Homo sapiens: one gene and its partners. The protein of the gene in region 1 purifies or fractionates together with the protein of each later gene. This does not show direct contact. Each region holds a gene or a part of one and is shown in the gene's direction. Other genes may lie near its edges. The genes, in order: CRYBG2, NEIL3, ZZZ3, MCM8 and EIF4G3.

Region 1 (4,233 bases):
GCGGAATTTTGACCTCCTCTGTTGCCAAGGAAACAGCCCATCTTTTAAAACGGGTCGTTTTGGGGGCAGTGTCCATCTGGGTCTGGGGTGCTGAGCCCTCTCCTCTTATCCCCACAGCCAGGCTGGACCCCAGGGGAAGACAGCAGAAGAGGTCAGGTGTTGTCCCATTTCAGGGGAACCCTCTTCTCTGGCTCCCTTATATCCCAGGTACATCCTCCCAGGTGTTCTGTCTCAAGCTGGGAGGGTACAAGAGAGGTGGCCGCAGTCTCTCTGTTAGCTTGGAATGGGCAGAGGCCATGGGCACTTGAGGCAGGCCTTCCCACCCAGCCCTCAGCCCCAGGGCGGGGAAGCACCTCAGGACTGCAAGGAAGCTGAGATCTCCAGCCTTTGGGGGGCATGGCCGGCCAGGCCCTGGGTGCCTTGTCACCTGGGAGGGAGTGCGGCACCTGAGCGTTGGGAGCCCTCGCTGGCTTGCTGTGTGATCTCAGTCATGTCGCCGTCTTCTTTGGGCCCCACTTTCCTCTTACGTAGAATGGGAAGGGGTGAGTTAAATGCTGAAGGGCCTTCCCAGAGCTCTGTCCCTTTGTCCAGCTCTGGTGGCCTTAGCAGCCTCTCCCTAGGGCAGCTTACCTTGGTGTCAGAGCCCTGTTCAGCTTCCTTGTGACAGGGAAGATACCAGGTACCAGGGGTGCCTGGAGGGCAGGGGGAGCTGTCACTATGCCCCTGCCTCTCTCAGTGTCTATCTCTGTTTTCACCCAGGCCCAAGGCCAGAGCTGCTCAGAATGGGACATCCATGTAGGGGACCATGATGATTTCTGGATTTGGAAGCAACAAGGAATCTCGGGGGGTCCTGCTCAGTCCCTGGGGCGCCTACAGAGGCCAGCGGTGGGCAGCGCCTTCGACCTGGCCAGCCATGCCTCCCTGGGGCCTGAGAGCCTGGCCCTGGAAGTGGCCTCAGGAGAGTCTGCTCGTACCAGGCTCCCCCAATACCCAGGGCCTGCTCCTGGACATGGGGAGCAGGGATCCTCAGGCTGCACCTGTCAGCAGTCTCCACCCACAGCTTCAGAGGTCCCTCTGAGGCCTGAGCCACCCAGCAACCTGGAAGACGCACCCCTGCTGCTCCACCCTGCATCCTTCCCCAGGGCAGAGGGGACAAAGGGCAAGCCCGCCACCCCAGGGACTGCCTTGCCAGAGCCTGCCCAGACCCTACACACGCGTCCCTCTTCCAGGAGGACCCGCTACTACATCACTGTCACCCTGCTGGGGCACAGGCAAGCACCAGGGGAGGAGGGTGAAGAACCGGCCCAACCAGCTCCACACCTCTGCGGCCCTGAGGAATCTGAGGGCTGGTGGGAGCCTCCCCAGGGGCCACGCCCCATCACAGGGTGCCGGACGGCCCCGCCTCAGGAACCCCAGCTGAGAGCCCAATCGCATCAGGGGAGCACGGCCCAGCAGCAGGAGCTCCAGGCTGGCTGGACACCTGGGTCCCCACGCAGACTGTGAGTAGAGGTCGGTCTGTGTGTGGAGATGGGAGGGGAGACTGGCCTGGCTGCCCTGTCTTGAGACTTTGCCTATTCCCTGGGCCTCTCCAGCTCTAGGCCCATTCATTCAGGACCCTGAGCCGACTCTGCCTTCCCTCCCTGCTCCAACCCTGCCTTCCTCTCCCTCCCTTTGCCCACAGGCTACCTCCTGGAACCCACTGCTTCTCACCCCCACTGTCCATCTGAGAAAGGGGAAAGTCTGTCAGGGAGAGGATGGGCAGGAAGGGGGGTTGCCTTCTTCACAGCATACACCACTCCCCAGTTCTGTTCAGGAGGCCACAGACTCAGCCTGGGAATTGGCACCCAGCCTAGGTGCTGGGTGTCCTGAGGCGAGTTGCTTAACCTCTCTGGGCCTTGAGTTGTTGAGAGGATTTGGTAGCTGAAAATGAGGAAGGAGGAGGTGGCTACAGGAATATACTTTGAACTCCAGAGACTGGGGGTGCCAAAATAGCAGGGATGCTTATTAATTACGTCTCAGTGACAGCAATAATTACCCCACCTGGCTCTGAGCTGGAAGCCAAAGGAGTGGGTGTCGAGTTTCCCAAGCCTAGTTTTATTTGTGTTGAAATGACTCTCCTAAATCTGCCTGGGGGGCGCAGAGGTGGAAGGATATGTCCCCCAAAGCTCATCAAGGAGGGATGAACATGGAACCTCCCAGGGATGACCCTGAAGAGGAAATGAGCCTGGGGTGGGGTTTTGAAGGGTGCTTAAGGATGATGGGGTGGCTGTCATTTGCAATTTGTTTTCTAAGCATAATTTTATTTAATCTTCCCAACCATCCCATGAGTAGGGACTGATCCCAACCCCTGTCACCTAATTCTAGGAGGCTCTGAAAGTCACTTGCTCAAAGTCAACTAGAAAGTGAAGGGGCTAGAATCTGAACTTAGGTTTCTATAACTCCAGTGCCTGTGCTCTAACCACTGCTCCATCCTGCCTGGAAGAAACCTCTTTGGCCCTGTGCAGAGAGTGGAGGGTTGAGTGAGGTTGCTGTGTGGGCTCCAGGGTTTTCTAGGCTCCTATGGCGGTGGATTGGGCAGCATTGTAGTAGCAGAGGCAGAATCAGGAATGCTGGGGTCCTCCAAGCAGGGGTCAATGTGACTGCTTCCGTGCCAAGGAAGAGGGAGATGTAGGACCCAGGCTGGCTCTGAGACCTGCTTGGATGCCCCAGAAGTCAGGGGCTGGGGGACAAGGGCTGCAGAGAGAGGGAAGGGGGGTGGAGGAGGCTACCTTGGAGAGGGGGACGGGAAAGAGAAGTAGGGTTAGCTGGGGGGAGGTGGTTTCTATCTGCCACTACCTGGGTATTTTGGGCCCAGGTGGATAATGACAGACTCAGGTGGGAGGCTAGGGCTCACTTAGAGTGGGGGGCAGGTGACCTCCAGAAACATCATCCTTCTATGTCCCCTTCCTGGGAGAAGGTTCTCTGGGCCAAGATTGGCAAATATGGGAGTCGAGAAGAAGTGAGACATAGCTGGGACTGCCAGTGGGAATGTGTAAGATACGTGTGCATCCAAGCGTGTGTGTCCACGTTCAGGGGTAGGTGAATTTCAAGGGGAAGAGAGCTTGGGGCTGTGAATTGACTGTGTGTGTATTGTGAATGTGTGCACGTGTGTGTCACTGTGCCTGTGTTTCTGTCTGTATGTGATTTGTGTGTCTGTTGTGGCTCTGAGTGCCTGTGCGTGTTTGTATTTCTTGGGTGAGTGTATATTTGTGTGTGTGTCCCTGGTTGTGTATGTTTTTATAGGCTTCTAGGTGTATCTTTGTGCCTGTGTGATTGTGGGTCTGTGTCGGTATCTGTCTGTGTGTCTGTGCCTGCGTCTGTGTGACACAGCATGTGTTTGCCTGCATGTGGGCCTGTGGACTGGTTTGGCCTAGTTTGGGGGTGACTCACAGGTAAGTGGGGAGAATCCAGGACTTGTTGGGTTAGACAAGGCTCTTTCCCACACTCCCCCCGCCCCCTCCTCAGCCTCTCCCTTCCCAGCTCCACACGCCTTGTTTGGAGGTCACAGGTCACGCTGCCAACAAATCCACTTCTGGTCTGGGGCCCTGCAGAAGAAAGGGCTCTGGGAATGGCCCCTTCTGCTGGCCCAGGAGAGGCATCCTGGGTCATTGTATTGGGGTATGTCTTCAGAGCAAGGACAAAAGGGGGCATCTATAGGCAGGCACATTCCAGCAGAGTCTGAAGGACATTCTAGCACTCATGACTGTTCAGGGACGGGGCAGGTGAACTGTCGAGTGGTGACCTCCCTGTCCCTGGAGGTATGCAGGCAGAAGCCAATGACCACATGCTTGTGGAATGACTGGCTATCAGGGGTGTTGTCCAGGGGTTGGGCTGGTTGAGAAAGACGTTAAATTCTGATTGGTAGGAGGTCATCGACAATATCTGATCTCATGATCGGCCGCCTCCTTTAACATTGCTCTCCTGTCGCTTTCCTGATGCCTATGGCGCTTTCCAAATGTCCCTGTTTTTATGTCTAATTCCTTGGCCCCTGGCTTCTTAATATGCCACCTTTCATGAGAAAGTTGGCTCTGGTTCTGGTTGAGTCTAGCCAAGGCCTAGCACATCCCTTGATACAATTAGCACTGAATGAGTGAGTAATTGAATGAATGAATGAATGAGTTAGAGCTCAAGCTTTGCCACTTACTATAAGCACCATCAGAGACAAGGAAGCTCGGAGAGTGGAAGGCAGGTGGA
Region 2 (4,302 bases), on another chromosome or scaffold:
GCTGAGCCAGGATGACTCTGGCTAGCTAGACTATTGCCAAATTCCTGACCCACAGAAACTTTGAAATAACAAATGGGATAATTGATGAGGTAACAATAAATAACTAGTACAACGCTGAAAGAGGAGAAGGTATATAGGACTTTTCTCCATCAAAGGACAGAGATTATTGAATTGAACAAGGGAGTAAAGTACAAATAGTCCTGAAATTGATCCAGCCAACTTTTGATCACTAATCTCTCCCTGCAAAGGAAAGATTTAATACTTTTCAAAATTTCAATCAAGTCTTCAGTATATTCAAATTCAACTCTCTAGTATACAGATGCTCCTCAACTTACGATGGGGTTATGTCCTGATAAACCCGTTGTAAACTGAAAATACAGTAAGTCGAAAATGCCTTTAATATATCTAACCTACCAAACATCATAGCTTCACGAGGCCCTCCTTAAATGTGTTCAGAACACTTACATTAGCCTACAGTTGGGAAAAATCACCTAACACAAAGCATATTTTATAATAAAGTGTTGAATAATTTATTGACTACTGTACTGAAAATGAAAAACAGAATGGCTATATGAGTACTCAAAGTACAGTTTCTACTGTGTGTCACTTTTGCACCATCATACAGTCAAAACACTGTTACGCTGGGGCATCCTAAGTCAGCAACCACCTGTGTATATGCTCTTGTGGTTTAACGGCAGCACAGTGCTATGCTTATGAAATCACTTAGAAATTGACATTCTGTTTTAATGTGTAGTATTTCAGTTTTCAAAAAAGAATACACTTTATAATTTACAAAACTATATGGAGTCATAAACTTCATAGATTTATATGTATGCATGCATCTTTGGTTAGGGTTGTGGGTAAATTTGAAAAGCTACGCATTACCCTCAAATTTATATAAACCTCTACGTTTAACAAAGCAATTTCATATAGCTTTCATCTTGGGGCGTCCCCTTACAAAATGGATGCATGCACTTAGGTAGGGCTCACTTAACTATCTAATAATGGAGTTTTTAAATATAGACACTAGAATATATTCTGCTGTTTGTTCCAAAAACCCTCTTCTTCGTTTCTCTTATCCCACCCACGTCCGAATATAGCATGCCAAAAACAGAGCCAAAAACAAGATTGTCTGTGACATATCTGTCCTGTCACAGACAAGGACAGATTAAGAGGACCAGATCAGAAAATGTGTGTATACTAAGTAGCTCAAAGACAAGGGCAAAACTTTAACGCAAAGAAAATACATTCAGAGCTTTCCAAGTCCCAATTTCTTCTGCTTTTACAGTTCAGCCTAGTTAGTTGTCCTCCACGCCCCCCGCCCCACGCGCGTTTGCGTTTTCTTAATAAACCCACAGCAAGACCTAGGGCGGGGGTGAACCACAGCGCATGCGCCGTAGGGAGCGACCTCAACAGCTAGGGTGCTGTTTGGGCGGGGCCTGGGCGGGGCCAGACGCGCGCGAGATTTGAATTTCCTCTGCGTGCGGTCAGTGCCCGCGCAGCGTTGAGTTGCACAGCGGTATTCTCACCAGGCCCTGCAATCGGTGGGCCACAGTGCCGGCCACAGAGATGGTGGAAGGACCAGGCTGTACTCTGAATGGAGAGAAGATTCGCGCGCGGGTGCTCCCGGGCCAGGCGGTGACCGGCGTGCGGGGAAGCGCTCTGCGGAGTCTGCAGGGCCGCGCCTTGCGGCTCGCAGCCTCCACGGTTGTGGTCTCCCCGCAGGTGAGCTACTCCTGTAACAGGCCATGCAGTCAGCAGGGGGGAAATGGAATAAAGACCCCATCAGGGTTCCAGGATTTAAAGTGTCATCTCTTTGCTCTGGCCCAGGTTTCCTGGGGTCCCACCTTTCACAGAGTTTATCGTCACTTTACTGTAGGGAGAAGTCGGTCCTAGCGCGCCTGCGCAGGAGAGGAGGGCTAGCGTTCTGGGCTCACGCTGCCGGAGCAAGATGCCCTAGGGGAATCCAGTGAAGGTGTTTTATCCGAGTCACCTTACTTAACTTCTTTATGATACACACATGGTTTCCCATGTCTACAGCTGCATTTTTTACTATTGATATTATCAAATCTCTGCTACCTCTGATATGTTTTCTTCGTCCCATTTTAAGCTTTTAGCATAAAATTCTACTTTCTTGCTTGGCTAATCTGCAATTGGTAAGTATATCACAACTAGTATATAATTCTAAAACTACACGTAGAAAATTTAGCACTAACTTCTCACTCAACTTCATATTGCCATCTAATTAAGGGGCAATGAAACCCAGTTCTGGTTCCCTTAAGTGAATTTATTTCTTTTTAAAGTAAACTAGCACAGCTTCTTGCCACTCAGGCATTCATTGCAGACGATGTGGTATTCATTTGGCCAGAACTTGTACTAAAAATATTCTGATTAAGGCATCATGTTTTAAAAGCCCTCTAGATGTATGGATGATTGTATTTCATGCCTACATGCAATATTGCACTGTATTTCAATTTCTTCTGCAAAGCTTCTTATAGCCTTTGGTCCTGGAAGAAAAAGTTGCCTGCTATGAAATTAGCATATGCTTACAACTTGAAAGAAATGAGGTTCTAAGTCTAAGAAAATATATTTTCAAACTTGGGAAAAAATAAGTTTTACATCTCCTTCCAATTGCCCTTTTGTTTATTTTGACTTGATATGCCAGTAAGTACTCTGTACCTATTTTTTTTTATTATTGTTATAGTGTTTCTAAAATCGTTTCAGGGTACCACAGAGATGGATTTTAGATGGTTTCTTAAGAATATTAATATTTATGAAAATTACTCATTCAATAAAATTTTGAATACTCAAGACACCTGGGGAGCAAAAACAAATACTTCCTCTTTTGGAGCCTATACTTCAGTTGGGAAGACACAAAGACATTCATTAAATAATCACCTAAAGAAATATAAATTAATAAGTTCTGTGAAGGAGAGATACACGATTCTTTAAGGACTTGTAGGAAGACCTGGGAAGGCTTCCCCAGGGAAGTAGCAAAGCTGAGGTGTGGGCCGGGTGCAGTGGCTCATGCCTGTAATCCCAGCACTTTGGGATGCTGAGGTGGGCAGATCGCCTGAGGTTGGGAGTTCAACACCAGCCTGACCAATATGGAGAAATTCCATCCCTACAAAAATAAAAAATTAGTCAGGCATGCTGGTGCATGCCTGTAATCCCAGCTACTCAGGAGGCTGAGGCAGGAGAATCGCTTGAATCCAGGAGGTGGAGGTTGCAGTGAGCTGAGGTCGCGTTATTGCACCCCAGCCTGGGCAACAAGAGCGAAACTCTGTCTCAAAAAAAAAAAAAAAAAAAAAGCTGAGGTGTGCAGGGTGAGTAGAAGCCATGCAGCTCAGGGATTGGAACAGGAAAAAGACTGAAAGAAAGCCAGAGTAGACACTGCCCTCTCATTTAGGAGTCGACTGCAGAAATCCAGGTGACAAATTTGGGGTCAAGTGCTGGTGGTGGAGATGAAGACAAGAGAATCACTATGATGGGAGGGCTAAGCAATGGATATGACATGAATATACTTAGGGATATCATCATTTACATCATTCAACCACAACGTATTTTGTGTTAGGTTTTATGCTAGCTCCTGCGGATACGAAGATGAGTAGGATATGCTTTCTGCTGTGAGAGTCCAACCTAATGTTTTAAATAAATATCACCTCATTGGTATTTAGGAAAAATAGCTTAAACATTTCCTTTTAAGTTTTGTTGTGATTATCTCTGATGGTATGGCATGAGATGCTTTTACATTTCATTCAGTCATGAAAAAGGATAACCCTATGATAAAGGATTAACCTGATTCTACAGATGAGGCATATGAGGCTCAGAGTGACTTTAAGTAAATTTGCCCAAGATCACATGTCTAGTAAGGGGCTAAACCAGGGTTTGATTTTTCTTTAAAACTCCAAAGCCTACCCTCTTAACCATGCCATAGCTCCTCTCAGCCATAAAAGATTCAGTAGGATCTTTATTGCTTTTTTAGCATACAACGGTAAGAACACCATAATGCTCAGTATATAGTAGTGGTTATTTATTAAATAGAAAAGTGCAATCTTGGATTTTTGGCTGTGTCTACCACCATTTTTAGTTTTGTTCGGTTGAGTCAATTCTCTTATATCTATTCTGATAATTCTCTTCTAACAGCTTCTATGGCCATGTTTGGATTGCACAAAAGAGTGCAGCCTGATAATATAATACAAATGCGTCAGTAATGGTTAGGCAATTATTAACATCACTTGGCAGCAATATTCAATAAGTTATACCCCACACATAAAAAGCCTGGCATTTAAAGGTATTATT
Region 3 (3,519 bases), about 51 Mb from region 1:
TTTTGAGACAGTCTCACTCTGTCGCCCAAGCTGGAGTGCAGTGGCATGATCTCGGCTCACTGCAAACTCTGCCTCCCGGGTTCAAGTAATTTTCCTGCCTCAGCCTCCTGAGTATCTGGGATTACAGGCGTGTGCCACCACACCTGGCTAATTTTTGTATTTTTAGTAGAGACAGCGTTTCACCATGTTGGTCAGGCTGGTCTTGAACTCCTGACCTCATGATCCTCCCGCCTCAGCCTCCCAAAGTGCTAAGATTACAGGTGTGAGCCACTGCGCCCGGCCGAAGATTATTATTTTAATGACCAAAATGAAATCACATCTTTAGGATAGATCTCTTCTGGGTGTTTTATGCCTGAGAGGCAGATACACAGTGAGGCAGTTATGGTCTCTAGAGCCCTGCCTTGCTACTTACTAGAGTTGTGACCTTGGATAGAATATTCAGAGTGTGCTTTAATCTCATTCGTGAAGTAGGGATGATAGTAGCACCTATCTGAGTTGTTGTGAGACTTAAGTGAGTTAATGTATGTAAGGCATATAGAAAGACTCATGGAACATATTAAGTACTGTATGCTTGTTAGCTATAATTTATATCATTATTGGAAACGTTAAAGAATTTTTATCACATAATTTAATATTGGCAGTTATATAGATAGTTATAGACTGTAATGTCCAAGTATACTTGGATTAAAAAGTTATAGCTTTATACTTTCGTTCTGGGTATATTAACTATTACCTTTTTCTCATTATTTTGTTTACATTTTTGAAGGTTTCCCAATGAGTGGATCATGATGACCGTATTGTAGGGACTTGCCATAGTATGGCTGCTTCCCGATCTACTCGTGTTACAAGATCAACAGTGGGGTTAAACGGCTTGGATGAATCTTTTTGTGGTAGAACTTTAAGGAATCGTAGCATTGCGCATCCTGAAGAAATCTCTTCTAATTCTCAAGTACGATCAAGATCACCAAAGAAGAGACCAGAGCCTGTGCCAATTCAGAAAGGAAATAATAATGGGAGAACCACTGATTTAAAACAGCAGAGTACCCGAGAATCATGGGTAAGCCCTAGGAAAAGAGGACTTTCTTCTTCAGAAAAGGATAACATAGAAAGGCAGGCTATAGAAAATTGTGAGAGAAGGCAAACAGAACCTGTTTCACCAGTTTTAAAAAGAATTAAGCGTTGTCTTAGATCTGAAGCACCAAACAGTTCAGAAGAAGATTCTCCTATAAAATCAGACAAGGAGTCAGTAGAACAGAGGAGTACAGTAGTGGACAATGATGCAGATTTTCAAGGGACTAAACGAGCTTGTCGATGTCTTATACTGGATGATTGTGAGAAAAGGGAAATTAAAAAGGTGAATGTCAGTGAGGAAGGGCCACTTAATTCTGCAGTAGTTGAAGAAATCACAGGCTATTTGGCTGTCAATGGTGTTGATGACAGTGATTCAGCTGTTATAAACTGTGATGACTGTCAGCCTGATGGGAACACTAAACAAAATAGCATTGGTTCCTATGTGTTACAGGAAAAATCAGTAGCTGAAAATGGGGATACGGATACCCAAACTTCAATGTTCCTTGATAGTAGGAAGGAGGACAGTTATATAGACCATAAGGTGCCTTGCACAGATTCACAAGTGCAGGTCAAGTTGGAGGACCACAAAATAGTAACTGCCTGCTTGCCTGTGGAACATGTTAATCAGCTGACTACTGAGCCAGCTACAGGGCCCTTTTCTGAAACTCAGTCATCTTTAAGGGATTCTGAGGAGGAAGTAGATGTGGTGGGAGATAGCAGTGCCTCAAAAGAGCAGTGTAAAGAAAACACCAATAACGAACTGGACACAAGTCTTGAGAGTATGCCAGCCTCCGGAGAACCTGAACCATCTCCTGTTCTAGACTGTGTTTCAGCTCAAATGATGTCTTTATCAGAACCTCAAGAACATCGTTATACTCTGAGAACCTCACCACGAAGGGCAGCCCCTACCAGAGGTAGTCCCACTAAAAACAGTTCTCCTTACAGAGAAAATGGACAATTTGAGGAGAATAATCTTAGTCCTAATGAAACAAATGCAACTGTTAGTGATAATGTAAGTCAATCTCCTACAAATCCTGGTGAAATTTCTCAAAATGAAAAAGGGATATGTTGTGACTCTCAAAATAATGGAAGTGAAGGAGTAAGTAAACCACCCTCAGAGGCAAGACTCAATATTGGACATTTGCCATCTGCCAAAGAGAGTGCCAGTCAGCACATTACAGAAGAGGAAGATGATGATCCTGATGTTTATTACTTTGAATCAGATCATGTGGCACTGAAACACAACAAAGAGTATGTGTAAATATGGTAACCATGAATTCTGCTTTGTTTATTATTCCCCAAGTTTTTCAGTATCTATTCGTAGTGTTTTTATTACAGCCAAAATTAATGTTTTCACTAAAATTTTAGGTTTAATATGATTTTCTCAACTCTTAGAAAAACTCCAAAAAAAGACTTAAACTCAACTTTACACGTGTGTTCTATGACAACATGGTCTTTCCAGTTCTGATATTTCATGTCTCAATTAGAAAAGACATGGTTGGTAGTGTTTTTGTTTTTTTAATATGTTTTATATCATTTTTAGTTAATTTATACAATGGAAACACATTGAGTTACCACAGTATGCTTTGATTTATAGTTCTAGATAGCATAGGACAATTAATGAGTGCTTAGACATCATCCAGATATGTGAAGTCTGGCAGGCTTGACATCTACTTTTATCTTACTTACATTTAATTCCCAATTAAAATTTTTTATTAAAAAATGTGCTTTATGCATCATCTTTGACTTTGACTTAGAGAAGTGGATATTACTATTAACACTATGACAGTATATTGTAATTAGCATATTAGCAAGGGTTAGTCTACTGGATAGTTTACATAAAACATTTGACATAGCTTTTCCTGATACTAAATATAAAGGAAGACTATCTTAAAATATTATCAGCTCTCAACCTTTGCTAAGTCACTGTTGTAAATAAAGAATTCTGTATCCAAATTTTTCACAATATTTCTTGCCTAGATTTCCTATAAAGTATTCAGGGCCATAACACAAAAGATTTGGAGCTTACTATGTCTAGATAATCCTGAAAAGAACTAGAACACACAGTGCTCATCATAAATATCATGATTAGCAACAATAAAAGACAGACTTATGTAATAAGTTAATTACCTTTATTGCTACAGGGTAGGCTTTTGAATTAATATCACAACCAGATTATATAGACTGTACATAAATACTTTGATTTGAGGAACATTTCTAGTGGTTTTGTTGTGACAATTGCCAGACCCTGGTATGTGTCAGATCAAAGTATCAAATCCTGGTTGTGGGACATAATATTTTTTTTGCCATGCATTGTAGATAGTGTAGATTTGTATATGGTAATACAGTGGTCTTTCAGCATAGGCCCCTTCTGAAAAGTTTTCTTCTGCTTTCTTTTGAAATACTATCTTAATATTGTATTTGATAGTTCATGTCATCTGAGCATTT
Region 4 (3,519 bases), on another chromosome or scaffold:
CCCACCCATTTAAACAGACTTCCTTCTCAGCCAGGGCTCTTAAGATTTAACCTGAAAGACTGATTCAGGCCACAAAGGGAAGTGGGGGTCAGACATGCCTTATTATACCTCTCTGGCATTAACATCAACACAGATTTTAAGTCTAATAAGAAACATTTTACAGCCTGTTCTCTCTGAAACCTGTTAGCCAAAGCTTCATCTGCATGATAAAACTTTGGTCTCTACAACCTCTTGCATCCCAAACATTCCTTTCTATTGATCCCAGGTCTTTAGACAAACTCAACCAATTGTCAACCAGAAAATGTTTAGATTTACCTGTAGGCTGGAAGCCCATGCTTTGAGTTATCCCACCTTTCTGGACTTTCTGGTTCTACAAATCACTGCACCTGGCCTCATTTTCTTATTTAATTTGACCTTTTGACTTGAACTGAAAAAAATGAAATTTTATCCCATCTTAGAGTATTATATACTGAGTTCACTTCTCAGTCTCCTTTCAGTGACTTGGCTGCACAGTCTCAAGATGTCTGTTCACATAAAATACAATATAATCCCGTATCCTAAAATGGAAGACCATGATTGTGACGCATTTTAAGGCTAGTTGTGTAAGAAGAGCAACATTGTATTTAGTTACTTTAAGATGCTTTGCAAGTATCCTCTGTTCCTTATGCAGAGTTTTTAAAAAATTCTAACCTTTATAGATTAACCAAGAACTTTGAGAAATGTACTGTAAGAATAAAATTTCAGTTGAGGGGATGTAAATTTTTTACATTTGTCTTTGTTGATATTAAGCAGGTTAAACAAATTGTAGAGGAGATCTCCTAATGGATCAATGAAGTATAAATTAGAATTTATAAGTTGTGTTCTGTTTTTCAGCTCGCTTTGCCCTGTCATTTTTGGTCATGAAGTAAGTATTTTACTTCATCTTTACTCAAAAAGTATATAAGGTTAGCAAAAATAACATATAAAAACTTTACAGAAAGTAGCAAATTTCTATTGGCCAGTTATTTATATCTTAATATGCTTTGTAAATTAATGATATGGGAGGCAAGCAAACTATAGCTTTTTTTTTTTTAATTTTTTTAATTTTTTGAGACAGGGTTTTGCTCTGTCACCCAGGCTAGAGTGTGATGGCACAGTCATGGCTCACTGCAACCTCCAGCTTTGGGGCTCAGGTCATCCTCCTGACCTCAGCCTCCTGAGTAGCTGGAACTACAGGCATGCACCACCATGTGCAGCTAATTTTTTTGTATTTTTTGTAGAGATGGGGTTTTGCCATGTTGCCCACGCTGGTCTGTAAGTCCTGGCCTCAAGTGATCCACCCAATTTAGCCTCCAAAGTGCTGGGATTATAGGTGTCAGCCGTATAGCTCCTTTTAAGAAAAAACTTTTACCAACTAGAGTAAATATGAATGGGCTTTTATTTTATTTATTTATTTTTTTGAGATGGAGTCTTGCTCTGTCGCCCAGGCTAGAGTACAGTGGTGCGATCTCAGCTCACTGCAACCTCCACCTCCCAAGTTCAAACAGTTCTCCCACCTCAGCCTGCCGAGTAGCTGGGACTACAGGCATGCGCCACCAGACCCAGCTACTTTTGGTAAGAAATGGGCTTTTAAAGTGACTAGACACTGCCAGTATTAAAGCAAAAACAAATATTTCTCGTTTTTGTGGAATGGATTTATGCCTTGCAAGGTAGCTCTTAGTAATTTCTAAGATAGCTCTGATTTTATATGTTTTCAAGTTTTTACTTTTTAATCATTTACGTGATAGAAGTTTGTTTTTAGACTTCCTTTTCTTAGAAAAAAATTATCATGCTTTTAAAACAATCCCCAAACAAATTAATATTATAGAAGGAGGAATACCCCCTTTACTAGTCACCTTTATGTTTTCCTTACTTCTGTTTTTTGTTCTTTTTTCGCACTTGAGCTTGTTAAAGCAGGTTTGGCATTAGCACTCTTTGGAGGAAGCCAGAAATACGCAGATGACAAAAACAGAATTCCAATTCGGGGAGACCCCCACATCCTTGTTGTTGGAGATCCAGGCCTAGGAAAAAGTCAAATGCTACAGGTAGACAATCAGTCATTTAGTGTTTGTTCTTTTGCTTGTAAAATGCGTTAATAATTCACAAGTGAATTTTCTCAAAGCATGTAGTGTGTGTGTTCCAGAGGACATGGTTAGGTGGCGTAAATGAATTGGAATTTGTGTGAGTAATATGTAACTTATATCTGACCATATTTTTAAATTGAGCCAGTCTCCTGTTACAGAGGCTGTACAAACATCTTGGTCTGTTGAGACATCAACTATTAGGAAATATTAACCATTTCTCTAACCATTGTTTTGCTAGTCTTTGTTGTTGTTAGTTGTTATGTGACCTCACCTATGAACAGAATAGTTCAGGGGAGTTAAAGCAGGGTCACCTATTCTCCCTCATACAAGTACATAAACACTGTATTGGGCTTTAAGAACAGTCTGCTAAAGGTGTGGGATCTGTCTGTATATATCTCCACTGCTTGTGAGTCCAAATCAAGGCAACCTTTTTTTTTGAGACGGAGTCACACTCTGTTGCCCAGGCTGGAGTGCAGTGGCATGATCTGGGCTCACTGCAACCTCTGCCTCCCACTTTTAAGCAATCCCTGTGCCTCAGCCTCCTGAGTAGCTGGGATTATAGGTGCGCACCACCACGCCCAGCTAATTTTTGTATTTTTAGTAGAGACAGGGTTTTGCTGTGTTGGCCAGGCTGGTCTTGAACTCTTGGCCTCAAGTGATCCACCCACCTTAACCTCCCAAAGTGCTGGGATTACCGGTGTGAGCCACCACGCTCTGTCCAAAGCAAGGCAACTGCTGTGATCAGTCATTTGTAGATCCCCAAGAAAATTCTGCCTCTGCCAGTCAGAGCCTAGTGGTTTTCCTTTCCTGGGTTTTATGATGGCTTTAGAAGGTGCTGCTTATTGGTATGCTTGTAGTTTCCTTAAAGTGACAACCGGTAAGCCAGCCGTAATGTGCTTTCTACTTTATTTTTTTGAGACAAGGTCTTCCTCTTTTGCCCAGACTGAAGTACAGTGGCGCAACTTTGGCTTACTGCAGCTTCCACCTTGGGCTCAGGCAATTCTTCCAACTCAGCCTCTCAAGTAGCTGGGACTATAGACATGTGCCACCATGCCTGGCTAATGCTTTTTTTGTAGAGATGGGGTTTTGCCATGTTGCCCAGGCTGGTCTCGAACTCCTGGGCTCAAGCAGATCCACCTGCCTTAGCCTTCCAAAGTGCTGGGATTAAAGGTGTGAACCACTGTGCTTGGCCACTGTGCTTTCTAAAAATGCCTGTGGCCCCCTTCTTCACTCGATGTGGAAAATTGACCAGGGCTTCTCTGGCCCTTTAGTAAGTTGTAGTAGTATGGCTCCTAAATCTTTTTCCAAGGATTGGGATCCTGGCTGCACATCTTAATTACTTTTGGAGCTCTTTGAAAATACCATAGCCCACTGCAAGCCAATTGAGTTAAGAGTTTCTAAGTTAGGGTCCTAGTGT
Region 5 (3,500 bases), 5.4 Mb from region 1:
ACACCAGCACCTTAATCAAAGAGTATAGACTCTTCAGTGGTAATCCAGAGAGCACTTAGAAAAGAAAGAACTGTTTTTTTAATGACTTGGAATAACAGAGGTTTGTGATGTTGGGAGGTAAAGTTTCTTGGCATTTTTCTAGTCTCCTGATTTTTTAACCTATGTGTTTAAGGGAATTACAAGTTTTATAATTTCCTTGTACATCTTAATAGTCTTCAAAATCCAACAGTAAATGAACTTCAAGAACCCCTGCAACTCTAGCTTTTTTTTTTTTTTTTTTTAATTTTTTTTAAGATGGAGTCTCGCTCCATCGCCCGGGCTGGAGTGCAGTGGTGCAATCTCGGCTCACTGCAACCTCTGGCTCCCAGGTTCAAGCAATTCTCCTGCCTCAGCCTCCTGAGTAGCTGGGATTATAGGCGTGTGCCACCACGCCTGGCTTATTTTTGTATTTTTAGTAGAGACGGGGTTTCACCTTGTTGGTCAGGCTGGTCTCGAACTACTGACCTTGTGATCCGCCCGCCTCAGCCTCCCAAAGTGCTGGGATTACAGGCATGAGCCACCACACCTGGCCAGCAGTTTGTAAATTATAAAGCCTCAGAAGCATTTCTGACCCATTCATTTCTGTCCGAATATTTTTTAATGGTTTTGTCACAAAAGTTAACAATGAAAATTAAAATTACCTCCAGTCTTTAAGTATATCCACCTGACGTGGTCATATGCTTAATGACTATAATTTATTTGCACTTATTCACATAATATTCACTTATTATACCTTGTTTACTTTGAGAAGTTAGTAAATCATAACAGCCGTTTACTTTGAGAAGTTAATAAATTGTAACACCAAAACAGTCTGGTTTGCCTATGAGTCTTTTGGTGGTGACTTTTGAGAATAGTTTTTACTTGTCTCTGCCTGAGGATGAAACACCTCAAAGCTGGCTTCAGAAACCTGATACATAAATAACATATCAGTTGGTATAGAGATAGTTGGTTAAAGCAGTAAAGTTATAACATAAGGGATATGGTATCTTTTAGTTCTGCTGCAAAACATTTTCTTGTAACTATTCTAGATCATATTTCTGAGTGAATAAAAATGCATCAGTTGAGGCCGGGCGCGGTGGCTCATGCCTGTAATCCCAGCACTTTGGGAGGCTGAGGAGGGTGGATCACCTGAGGTCACGAGTTTGGGACCAGCCTGGCCAACATGGTGAAACCCCGTATCTACTAAAAATACAAAAATTACCCAGGAGTGGTGATGCGCCTGTAATCCCAGCTATTCTGGAGGCTGAGGTGGGAGAATTGCTTGAACTTGGGAGATGGAGGCTGCAGTGATCCAACATCGCGCCACTTCACTCCAGCCTAGGCAACTGAGCAAGACCCCATCTTAAAAAAAAAAAGAAAGCATCAGTTGTTTTCGGATTGAAGAACAAGCTCTGTAAAATTAGAATTTGGTGTGTATATATCTTCAGTGTACTCTGAAAAGCCTCAGTTATTGGCCACACTTTTAATATCACCGTCACTTTAGTAATTAAATGCATAAAACTAGATATTAATTGGATGATATATTAAAGTCTTGGGAATTTTTATTGTTTATTCTCTGTATCTGGTGGGAGGAAAAAGGAGTGTTTTGAACTTGTGGGAAAGCATTCCCCATTAATCATCCAGGAGTTTGTTTTCTACAATTTTAGGAATGTATATGATGTATAGTATGTAACATTAACTTTCCCACTTTTTAAAAGAATTGTGACTTTTTTATTTTATTATTTTTACCTGTATCAGATATAAAACCATTATTTAAATTTTCTTAGGCAGAGGGAGATTTCTAATTTTTCTATTTATTTTGTTTTTTTGGCTCTTGCTTATAGTACATTTTTAATGTATATTTTGTAAGTTTGTTTTATGAACTTATCCAGATAAATTTTCCTGGATGTAGATTGATGGCAAGTTATTCTAAAGCAGATTTGTGTTTACTTTATCTGCTGCATGTCTTGGGGAAAGCATTTGCTGGAACTAAATCTGGGTTTAATGTTTGTTAGAACTAAATCTGGGTTTAATGTCCTAAAGCTACAGTTCTATCCCAAAGCCTAAGGACAGCCATACCGTATGGCTTGGATACTAATTTTCAGGGTAACAGCAATCTTCTCTCCATCCAGTTGAAACAACGTCCTTTCTCATCATCACTGTGTTGGTTCAGTGGTTTATTCCCTCTCTCTCTTTTTTAAGCTATCTTTTCACTGAGCATGTCACCCATTTGGGAGTCTCAGAGCTTTATGTGAGCATCTCAGTTCCAGGTTCCCACTTTGCAGGGATCCAAGATCTCTCTTTTCTTATGGGTGTTAAAAATACAAATTCATTGGTTATAGAGACTGGCACACCCTTCTACACCCCCAGGAATGTAAGGATGGCATCAGCCACTGACCTGTAGTTTACCTTATATTCTCGTAAGCTCAGCTAAGGATGTAGAAGGGTTTCCAGATTCTGTAGAATATAACATAGGAAGTTTATTTCTCAAATGGAGATACGATTATATGTTTTGGTAATGTTAACAAAATACTGATCCATGTAGCCAATCAAGTTGCTGCTTTCTCTTTTAGTTTAGACTTACTGAAGTGTAAAGGGAGCATACTTCAGTGCAAGAAAAATATTTTAATAACAACCCTTGCTTTATTCTCAACTGTGAGAGTATTCAGAGTACTTTCAAAGAAATAAACATAGCAAACATAAAACCAGAGATATAAAAGTCTATCAGTTTTCCTAGATTAAACTAAAAATGACTAATCTTTTAAATAATAAAATTTATTCTAACCTTTGCTCAACTTACATATTCTAAAATATATTTGAAATATCTCTGGAAGATTTAGTCGCTGGGGCCAAAAGTAGATTGCCAATGGTTTGAGTATCCTGTTGGCCTAATCACTATACTACTATGCATCCTTATAATTTAGCTTCTACAGAAACGTGTTCTGGAAACATGGAAACAGGACTCCTTACACATTCCTGGTTCTTTGTCATCTACCAAAACAAGCAGAGTGATCCTTAAAGCAAGGACCATTGGCTTCAGTTTTCAGAGGCTTGAGTCTGAGTGATCCTTAGGGATAAATAAAGGTTTTCTCCACCTTGTTTGTAAACTGTTTCCAACAAAGCTGCCTAAAAGGTATGTTTCTGCCATCCCATTCCTATTTTCTTGTTTCCCTCCCCAGTAAACTCTTAGGCATTCCTTGGAAAATACTGATGCTGGTCAAATTCTTTTATATACTGCAGAATGAGCCCAGACACCTGTTAGTTGAGCCTGTTGGCAAGTCCCTTACGTAGTTCTTCCTTGCCTCTTTATGTGGGATAGATTTCCCCATTTTTTACAGTAGTTCATGTCTTTCATCATGAGCCCTAAAGTCTCAGTCATTGGGTATTAACTTAGTTCTACATCTTTCTGAGTAGTTATACTTTGTTCAAAATGTAGCTCCCTTTTCCCCACATTTAGTAACTAATCCTCCTCCATGACAAAG

What was found.
Region 2: the proteins of CRYBG2 (region 1) and NEIL3 purify together in Homo sapiens (affinity purification with mass spectrometry; one large-scale study listed by BioGRID and IntAct). This does not show direct contact.
Region 3: the proteins of CRYBG2 (region 1) and ZZZ3 purify together in Homo sapiens (affinity purification with mass spectrometry; one large-scale study listed by BioGRID and IntAct). This does not show direct contact.
Region 4: the proteins of CRYBG2 (region 1) and MCM8 purify together in Homo sapiens (affinity purification with mass spectrometry; one large-scale study listed by BioGRID and IntAct). This does not show direct contact.
Region 5: the proteins of CRYBG2 (region 1) and EIF4G3 purify together in Homo sapiens (affinity purification with mass spectrometry; one large-scale study listed by BioGRID and IntAct). This does not show direct contact.

The regions. Positions count from the first base shown.
Region 1 is NC_000001.11:26,351,312-26,355,544, reverse strand, and holds the start of CRYBG2 (beta/gamma crystallin domain-containing protein 2), read left to right. Parts: upstream 1-1,414; 5' UTR 1,415-1,509; intron 1,510-4,233.
Region 2 is NC_000004.12:177,308,385-177,312,686, forward strand, and holds the start of NEIL3 (endonuclease 8-like 3), read left to right. Parts: upstream 1-1,489; 5' UTR 1,490-1,569; coding exon 1,570-1,725; intron 1,726-4,302. UniProt on the Homo sapiens protein: DNA glycosylase which prefers single-stranded DNA (ssDNA), or partially ssDNA structures such as bubble and fork structures, to double-stranded DNA (dsDNA).
Region 3 is NC_000001.11:77,630,653-77,634,171, reverse strand, and holds part of ZZZ3 (ZZ-type zinc finger-containing protein 3), read left to right. Parts: intron 1-766; 5' UTR 767-817; coding exon 818-2,322; exon of another isoform or gene 2,323-2,337; intron 2,338-3,519.
Region 4 is NC_000020.11:5,971,134-5,974,652, forward strand, and holds part of MCM8 (DNA helicase MCM8), read left to right. Parts: intron 1-873; coding exon 874-904; intron 905-1,442; coding exon of another isoform or gene 1,443-1,593; intron 1,594-1,922; coding exon 1,923-2,063; intron 2,064-3,519. UniProt on the Homo sapiens protein: Component of the MCM8-MCM9 complex, a complex involved in the repair of double-stranded DNA breaks (DBSs) and DNA interstrand cross-links (ICLs) by homologous recombination (HR).
Region 5 is NC_000001.11:20,935,898-20,939,397, reverse strand, and holds part of EIF4G3 (eukaryotic translation initiation factor 4 gamma 3), read left to right. Parts: intron 1-3,500. UniProt on the Homo sapiens protein: Component of the protein complex eIF4F, which is involved in the recognition of the mRNA cap, ATP-dependent unwinding of 5'-terminal secondary structure and recruitment of mRNA to the ribosome. Functional homolog of EIF4G1.